Homo sapiens: one gene and its partner. The protein of the gene in region 1 interacts with the protein of each later gene in a pairwise test. Each region holds a gene or a part of one and is shown on either strand. Other genes may lie near its edges.

The links.
Region 2: the proteins of MYL4 (region 1) and PYROXD2 interact in a two-hybrid assay, tested with the Homo sapiens proteins (one large-scale study listed by BioGRID and IntAct).

The regions. Positions count from the first base shown.
Region 1 is NC_000017.11:47,217,607-47,221,763, forward strand, and holds part of MYL4 (myosin light chain 4), read left to right. Parts: intron 1-2,297; coding exon 2,298-2,447; intron 2,448-4,075; coding exon 4,076-4,157. UniProt on the Homo sapiens protein: Regulatory light chain of myosin. Does not bind calcium.
Region 2 is NC_000010.11:98,396,959-98,402,199, reverse strand, and holds part of PYROXD2 (pyridine nucleotide-disulfide oxidoreductase domain-containing protein 2), read left to right. Parts: intron 1-1,942; coding exon 1,943-2,098; intron 2,099-4,701; coding exon 4,702-4,855; intron 4,856-5,241. UniProt on the Homo sapiens protein: Probable oxidoreductase that may play a role as regulator of mitochondrial function.

The sequences.
Region 1 (4,157 bases):
AGATAATACTAGCAGCATTGTTTATGCATTTACTATGTGCTGGTCATTGTGTTAAAAATTTTTACATACATTATTGTATTTATATACCTAGTATATTTACATACATTATTATATTAATTTGAATGTAATTTAAGAAACCTATGATAGCTGGGTGGAGTGACTCACACCTGTAATCCCAGCACTTTGGGAGGCCGACGTGGGCTGATCACCTGAGGTTGGGAGTTCGAGACCAGCCTGACCAACATGGAGAAACCCCGTCTCTACTAAAAATACATAATTAGCCTGGCGTGGTGGCGCATGCCTGTAATGCCTGTAATCCTAGCTACTCAGGAGGCTGAGGCAGGAGAATCGCTTGAACCGGGAGGCGGAGGTTGCAGTGAGCCGAAATCGCGACATTGCACTCCAGCCTGGGCAACAAGAGTGAAACTCCATCTCAAAAAAAAAAAAAAAACAAAAAACTAACTAAAAAGAAACCTATGATGTAGGTACCATTTATAGAAGAGGTTTTTAGAGGTTAAATATTTATTTGTCCAAAGTCAAGCAATGGGAATGAAATTTGAACTCGATTATTCAGTAATGTGAAAGAAATGTGGTTTTATGTCTTTTAAATTCATATAAAGCCGAAGAAAGAGTTGGAAGTAAAGGTCTGGGGAATCTTCTGTGATATGTGGAATGATTTGTAAATAATCCATACGCAGCCTCGAAGGAAAGAAGTACTTGGAAAGGATGAAAACTGGCTTTTTTTCCTAAGTAGTTCATGAATTCTTTTTTGGCTTATACTGTTCATCTGCTTAGTAAAGCACTTCTTTGTGGGTAGCATAAGGTAACTTAAATGCCCCTCCCAGGCCAAATTACCTCCACTAATGAATTGGTTGAATCCCAATCAATGAAGAATTGGGCCCGGGTATGATGGCTCACACCTGTCATCCCAGCACTAGGGAGGCCAAGGCAGATGGATCACTTGAGGCCAGGAATTTGAGACCAGCCTGGCCAACATGGTGAAACCCTGTCTCTGCTAAAATACAAAAATTAGCCAGGTGTCGTGGTGGTGGGCGCCTGTAGTCCCAGCTACTCGGAGGCTGAGGCACAGGAATTGCTTGAATCTGGGAGGCGGAGGTTGCAGTGAACTGAGATCACACCACTGTACTCCAGCCTGGGTGACAGAGCGAGACTCTGTCTCAAACAAAAACAAAAACAAAACCAAAACAAATCAATGAAGAGTTAAGGTTCTTTGAAAAAGGGACCAGGAGTGCCTTCCTTTGGTCTTGCTGCAGGGATACTTGCCCTGCTGCCTTCAAGGAGTCCAGTCCCTGTGGTTCTGAGCTGGTAAGTAGGAAAGAGAACTAGGAAACAGCTGTAACCACAATTTGTCGATTCCCTTACCATATGCTGAACATTGCTTGGCGTGCTTTGTGATCCCACCTGCAACCCACTCAAGTGATCATTGTATCTCCACTTAGAGCTAGGAAAATGAGGGCCCACAGGGGTTAATAGTTTGCCCAAGGCTGTATGCGAGTCCATGGCAGAGCTGGGGTGGTCTGACCATTGCCTTATCTGGCCTGGGGGCCGCCTTTCAGCCTGGAACAGGCAGTACTGATAACAGCTGACTTTCCAGCGGTCTTATCACTTTGTAAAGTGCTTCCACACACTGCGACCTCCCTTTGCTCTCACAGTGACAGGCCCAGGGAGTGGGGTGTAGTTGTCACTCCCTTTGTGTGCACATGAAGCTGAGACCCAGCCCAGCTTATCCTGCACTCTGAGGCAGAGCCAAGATGAGAATTTAGGAATCCTCACTTCTGGGCCAGTGCTGTTTTCACTTGTCTGTCATTTCAGGAGTCAGGAACCTCACCTACACCAGAGCGGGATGTGTGGGTGGGAGGGGTGGAGGCCAGGGAGACATCTGAATTTTTTTTTTGTTTCAAGATGGAGTTTCACTCTGTCACCCAGGCTGGAGTGCAGTGGTGCGATCTTGGCTGACTGCAACCTCTGCCTCCCGAGCTCAAGCGATTCTCGGGCCGCAGCCTCCCAACACTGGAATTTTATAACAACGAAGCAATAGAAGAGATCCCAGTCCCAGCCCTGGAATGGGTCGTGGAGGCACCAGGCTGCTTCTTTGGTTGACAGAAGATGGGATGAGGACGGGTTCGAGGGACGGCCTGGGATAATGGACAAAGCGAAATATTGGGATATTTTAACAACCACACTCACCTGCTATTCAGCTTGGGTGGAGGCTGATTGGCCACCAGCCACCACCTTCACTGGGGATTGGAAGGTATAGCTGGGTCTTCTCTCCACAGAGTTCAAAGAGGCCTTTTCATTGTTTGACCGGACCCCGACTGGAGAGATGAAGATCACCTACGGCCAGTGCGGGGATGTACTGCGGGCCCTGGGCCAGAACCCTACCAATGCCGAGGTGCTGCGTGTGCTGGGCAAGCCCAAGCCTGAAGGTCAGTGCGGCTGCATGGCAGACCTCTCCCAGGGTCAGGCTTGCAGCCCCTTGGCTTCCTCCTTGTCCAGATCTTCTCTGCCATCTGCACTCTCTCTTCTCCTGCTTTAGCCCCTCAGGACCAGCCTCACCTACCCAGCTTACCCTAGTCCCATTTTGAGAATTTATCTAGACGTCCCCGTACTTAAGTGACCCTTGAGGAATGTAGCCTGGGCTTGTTTCCCTCACGAGGTTGGGAGCTCCTGTGGGGCATGAGCCACATTCTGTTGCCTCAGTGTCTGAGGAAGGCTGAGTGGGAATCTGGAAATCTGATAACTGATGGTTCCCACTCCCCAGCCCAGGAGCTCTCAGGAGGGGCATCTGTCACAGCACCGAGGTATCCTGTGGTGGCCATCGCGAGCTGTATTACAAACAATTTGTTTCTAATAATGGTTAGAGTACTGACGTTTGCAAATTGTTTGGTATAAATTAGAGCAGCTTCAAGATTCTTAGCTCTACGTGCTGCCTCTTTCATTCATTTGCATTTCAATAGGTTTTGGTGAGTGAGTGTTTAGAATGGTGAGTAAGTGTTTAGAAAGTGGTGCAAACGATTCTTTTGTGGCTCCTAAGTGTGATCATTGAGTGTTCATACTCATGTGAGCTGTGCCTCTGTCAATCATTACGGCAGATGAGAAGAGGTGTGAGGGAGTGTGTCCTGTTTGTGAATGTTGTCTGTCATGTGTGCCAGTCAAGTTAACAGCTGCTCTAAAACACACACACATGCTTCTCCTCAGTGGTGTTGGCACGGGGTTTGGGGTGGGGTGAGCCTCTCAGCAAGGGTGGTCTGTCTCTGGAGGCTTCCTGGGCCCCATAGTGGTTTCCTCCCCATCCCTTGGTTCTGGCCCGTCCCCCTTCTCCTCTGGCTGAAGGTAACCGCGGGGGTGAAGGATGTGGGCAGGAAAGGACCAGAGGGCTAGGGGCTTGCATCTCAGAAGTCAGAAGCAAGTCCTGTGTGCTTATAAAAGAAAGAAATGCCCACATTTGTGATATTTAAAAATAGTTTGCCTCTATTAAATTAAAGCCTTTTAAATACACTACCATGTGGGAGAAGTATGCTATTCACAAGAGAACTGTGAATTTATAAGAATTATTGATTCAGAGTAGCTTCAAGCTGTGTGGTCTAGTGATGGGACCCCATGCAGAGTGATGCAAACGTTGCTTTTTTCAATCCTGTTGGTTTGCCCCTGTGATTATAGGTCTGTCACGTCAAGGGTCTAAACTGAGTGTGAGGCCCGGGCCGCGTGGCACTTCAGACCCCTCACATCCTGCTGCTGCCACCCTCAGCTCCTCCGCTTGGCTGGCCACCTGGTGCTTAGAGGTCTGGGTGGAGGGCTCCTTTTTCCTTCCATCCTACTGCTTTCACTGAGAAAAGAGGGCCCCTGAGACCATCTCCCCAGCTCCCAGTCCCCTACCTTGCTTGGATGGGAAGCTCTGTGTCCTCTAGGAGCACTAATGGGTGTACCACCCAGAATTGGCTGCAGCCCAAGCCCTGGGTGCTGTCAGACTTGGGGTGAGGCCCCCTCTTGACCCTCTGCTCCCTTGAGCACCTGCTCACATTGATTTCTCTTTCTTTACCCTGCCTGCCTGAAGAGATGAATGTCAAGATGCTGGACTTTGAGACGTTCTTGCCCATCCTGCAGCACATTTCCCGCAACAAGGAGCAGGGCACCTA
Region 2 (5,241 bases), on another chromosome or scaffold:
AGACAGCCATGTGCCACCATGTTGGTCAACGATAGACTATATACAGTGGTGGTCCCATAAGCTTACAATGGAGCTGAAAAAATTCCCGTCCCCTAGCGATGCCATAGTTGCACTGCAACATATTATTCATGTGTTTGTGGTGATAAGCCTACTGTGTGGCCAGTTGTCAAAAAGTCTAGTACATATAATTATATACAGTACATAATACTTGATAGTAAATGACTTTGTCACTGGCTAATGTATTTATTATACTATACTTTTATTATTATTTTAGAGAGTATTCCTTTTCCTTATTTAAAAAATTCACTGTCAAACAGCCTCAGGCAGGTCTGTCAGGAGGTATCCAGCAAAAGGCATTGCTCTCTAGGAGATGACAGTGCCACGTGTTACTGTCCCTGAAGACCCTGCAGTGGGGCAGGATGTAGAGGTGGAAGTCAGTGACATTGATGATCCTGACCCCGTGTAGGCCTAGGCTGATGTGTGTGTTTGCATTTTACTTTTTAGCGAAAAAAGGTTATAAAGTAAAAAATAAAAATAAAAAATTTTAAAAACAGAAAAAAGCTTATAGAATGAGGATATAAAGAAAATATTTTATATAGCTGTACAATGTTTGTGTTTTAAGCCAAGTGTCTTTTTAAGAGAATCAAAAAGGTTTTAAAAATTAAAATGTTTATAAAGTTTAAAAGTTTGCAGTAAGCTAACCTACTGAAGAAAATTTTTTAATAAATGTAGTGTAGCCTACGTGTACTATATTTATAAAGTGTGCAGTAGTGTACAGCAATGTGCTGGGCCTTCAGTCACTCACCACTCACTCGCCCAGAGCAACTTCCAGTCCTGTAGGCTCCATTCATCATGAGGGCTCTATACAGTATCATTTTTCTTACCTTTTATGCCATATTCTTAATGTACCTTTTCTATGTTTGTTTTTTTTTGTTTTTTTTTTTTTGAGACAGAGTCTTGCTTTGTCACCCAGGCTGGAGTGCAGTGGCGGCAATCTTGCCTCACTGCAACCTCTGCCTTCCAGGTTCGAGCAATTCTCCTGCCTCAGCCTTCCGAGTAGTTGGGACTACAGGTGCGTGCCACCATGCCCGGCTAATTTTTGTATTCTTACTAGAGACGGGGTTTCACCATATTGGCCAGGCTGGTCTCGAACTCCTGACCTCGCTGATCTGCCCGCCTTGGACTCCCAAAGTGCTGGGATTACAGTCACGAGCCACTGTGCCCAGCCTAGACATGTTTAGATACCCAAATACCATTGGATTACAGTTGCCTCCAGTATTCAGTGCAGTAACATTCTGTGCAGGTTTGCAGCAACAGGCTACACCCCACAGCCTATGTGTGGTAGGCTATCAGATCTAGTTTTGTGTAGGTACACTCTGTGATGCTCAAACTGTGATGAAATTGTCTAGCAATGCATTTCTCAGAACATATCCCCATCGTTAAGTGATGCAAGACTGTACTTACAAAGTTATTGTGAGGTAACCATTGTAAACCCTAGTACAGTCCCTGGCATGGAATGAGTGTGTCATGCTGTGATGTGGTATGACATGGCATGGCATAGTGTGGTGTGATATGGCATGGTATGGTATCACATGGTGTGGTAGGGTGTGGTATGACATGGTGTGTGTGGTGTGATGTGATGTAGTGTGGTATGGTATGATGTGGCATGGCATGGCGTGGTGTATGGCATGGTATGTGTGGTATGTATGGTATGGTGTAGAATGGTATAGTGTACTGCGATGTGATACAGTATCGTCTACCATAGGGTACTTGGGCAAGAGGGCTTTTTATAAACTTATATTTAAAAAACAGACACCAGGACCATACACTTGGGAACCTACACACAGGTACCTAAATGGTCACACAAACACAATCGGAGAAAGATGATGGGCAGAGACCACAGAGCCATTAATATGTGGCCCATGCTATTTGTGTTTTGCAGAAACATGGGCTGAGGCTTCATCTTCGAAACCCCTACTCCTTCACCCCCATGCTGGAAGAGGGTGCAGGCAGCAAGGTGCCCAGGTGCCTTCTGCTGGGCACAGACATGGCAGAAAACCAGAAGCAGATCGCCCAGTTCTCCCAGAAGGATGCCCAGGTAGGGAAGGCGACCAGTGACTGAGCTCCTGCTCCCTCAGCAGCCTAGAGATGGGCCTGGTTGGATTGTCCTAGAACAATTGTTCAAAGGCCATGGACACTGCGCCAGGCCACCCCACGTTCCTAGGAGGGCTCCAGTTGGTGGCAGCTCTTGATCTCAGGCACTGCGAAGAGAAGCGGGTGGAGGATGCTGATTAAGACCAGTGGACTGGGAGGCCTGCTCACCTGCGTGTGTTCAGTATGGGGCCACTGTCAGAGGGGCTGTGCCTGCTGAGTTCAAGAGGAAATGCACTGGCACGTTCTTACACTGGCGTGTGCTTCATGCCCCTCCAGCTTTCAGGCAGAGTTCCAGGTGTTTGTCCACATTAAAGCACATGAAAGCCAAAAAGGAGGATGAGGGAAGATCAGAGAAAATTAAGGATAAATAAACTGAATCAGGAACTTAGGACAGGAGAGTTCTAAATATTTATTCAGTGTGGCATCCCAAGGCTCCCTCCTGGCTGCCCAAGGCAACAAAGTGTCCATGATGGTGTGCAGGTCTGGTGACAGGATGAACACATGTCGGATGGAGAATGCACTTTTTTCCCTTGGAACTGCATTCTAGGAACCTGCTGGGTGGCCTTGTCTAGATGAGCCACTGAGTTCCGTAAGGGCCCTGCCACAGTTGGTTCTGTGGATATAGAAAGATTATTTGAATGGCCATTTTGTACCAAGCCTGGATATTAGCTGAGATGTAGCATTAAATCATATCTCAGTGGAGACATTTTTATAAGAAGAACCTAGGTTAATAGAACCCATGTACATTGCTTTTGTTGTGTTAATCTATTGCTGGGTAAAACTTAGAGAACCACAGACACACAGCCTACATGTCTCTTCCACCAGCAGTTTTCAAACCTGGCTGATGATCAGAATCACCTGAGGAGCTTAGCCTTTTATTTTGTTATTTTATTTTATTTGTTTTTGAGACAGGGTCTCACTCTGTTGCCCAGGCTAGAGTGCAGTGGTGCGATCTTGGCTCACTGTAACCTCTGCCTCCCGGGTTCAAGCAATCCTCCTGCCTCAGCCACCTGAGTAGCTGGGATTACAGGCATTCACCACCATGCCCGGCTATGTTATTTTTAATTTTTTTGTAGAGACAAAAGTCTCACTATGTTGCCCAGGCTGGTCTGGAACTCTTGAGCTCAAGCAATCCTCCCACCTCCACCTCCCAAGGTGCTAGGATTACAGGCATGAACCACCACACCCGGCCTGAGGAGCTTAGCTTTTTTAAAAGTGCTTCTTTGGTGGTTCTTTTGTGCAGCAGATTGGAGACCACCACCTGCATCCTCTCGTCCAAATCCTACCCATCTCAGAGGCACTTGAGGGGATTCTGCACAAGGCCAGGTCCCCGGGCCTGCAGGACACTAGCTGTGGCCCTACATGCCAGCGACCACACACGCTGGAGGCAAGTGCCCATTTCCCATCGTGGAAAGTGAGGAGCTTGATTTCTGGTTTTGTCTTTCCATGCTGTCATATTAAAGGCCTGCTTAGAGAAAGCTGTTTAACTTCATTTTTAATAAGACTTCTCGAATGTATTTTAACATGGAACTTTTCTTTATGTAACACTTATTAAAATGCCATGGGTATATCCATGGGTAGAGATGGACCAAAATTCAAAGTCCAGGGCTAAGAAGAGTCAGGTAGGGCCTCCAGTAGCACAGGCTTCTATCACTGCTCCTGTGCCCTCCAGGGAAAGGAGGGTGGGTGTCAGAAACCAGGCTTTCGAAAGTGGATTCTGACATGGGAGCTTGTGGGGTGAGAGGAGGCAGGCTTCTGTGACTGCAGGTGATGAGACGGCATGGGAGACGACCTACAGACCGGAAAAGAATACAGGCAAAGAGGTCTAACTTCTACCAATAATATAGGAAAGGACAGAAGGACAGGCCAGCGTGGCGGCTCACGCCTGTAATCCCAGCACTTTGAGAGGCCGAGGCAGGCGGATCACTTGAGGTCAGAAGTTCTTGACCAGCCTGGCCAACATGGTGAAACTCCGTCTCTACTAAAAATACAAAAATTAGCCGGGCGTGGTGGCAGGTGCCTATAATCCCAGCTACTCAGGAGGCTGAGGCAGGAGAATCACTTGAACCTGGGAGGCAGAGGTTGCAGTGAGCCGACATCGCACCACTGCCCTCCAGCCTGGGTCACAGAGCAAGACTCCATCTCAAAAAAAAAAAAAAAAAAAAAAAGAAGAAAGGACAGAAGGAAGAAACTTCTAAGTGGTTTCATGATTTATCGCAGAGACCACACCCTAGGATTGTTGCCAGTTTTCTGTGGGTGACACTTCGTGTTAGCCAGCATTAGCTCCTTGTCCCTGTCACCACTCCCAGTGATTCTCCTATTGCCCAGGGTCTCCTGACCACCACCACCCCACCCCATGCACTCTTCCTGGTGTTGATGTTAACCCAGAGACCTGGAACTGGGGGAGCTCAACAGAGCCAAGCTGGGCCACAGCGGGGAATGAGGCCTGAGGAACCGTCAAGCTGTGGGGGGGTGACAGGCCATCTGGGGACAGCATGGAGGGCAGGGATGTGGACAGTGGGGCCTTAATGCAGAGCTCTGTTCCAGGTCTTTCCCAAATATGAGGAGTTCATGCATCGCTTGGCATTAGCCATTGACCCTCTGCTGGATGCGGCCCCCGTGGACATGGCGGCCTTCCAGCATGGCTCCTTGCTGCAAAGGATGAGGTCGCTCTCCACCCTCAAGCCCCTGCTGAAGGCAGGTAAGTCCAAGTGCAGGCACCAGGGCATGATGAGTGACCTTCAAGGAGGTGAGCCCATTGTCTCGATGCCTAGACACAAGCCTGAACCTCCATGGCAGCCTGCCAGCTGGGATCAGTTAACATGCTGCGATCAATTAGGGGCAGCCTGGAGCACTTTGTTGAGAGCATCTTAGGCTGATATGCCTTTAAAATAGAGCCTGAGACCAAGGCTTATGCGTGGGTAGTTCATTTGGAAGGGTGACCCCAAGACACAAAAATAGCAGAAAGTTGGGGTGAAAGTGGACAGAGAAAGAGTCAATACCAGAGTGTGTGATCGCACTAGCCAGCACTGTGGGTGACAAGATGCTGGACCTGTGTGGGCCCTCTGGGAAGCCTTATGAAAAGCA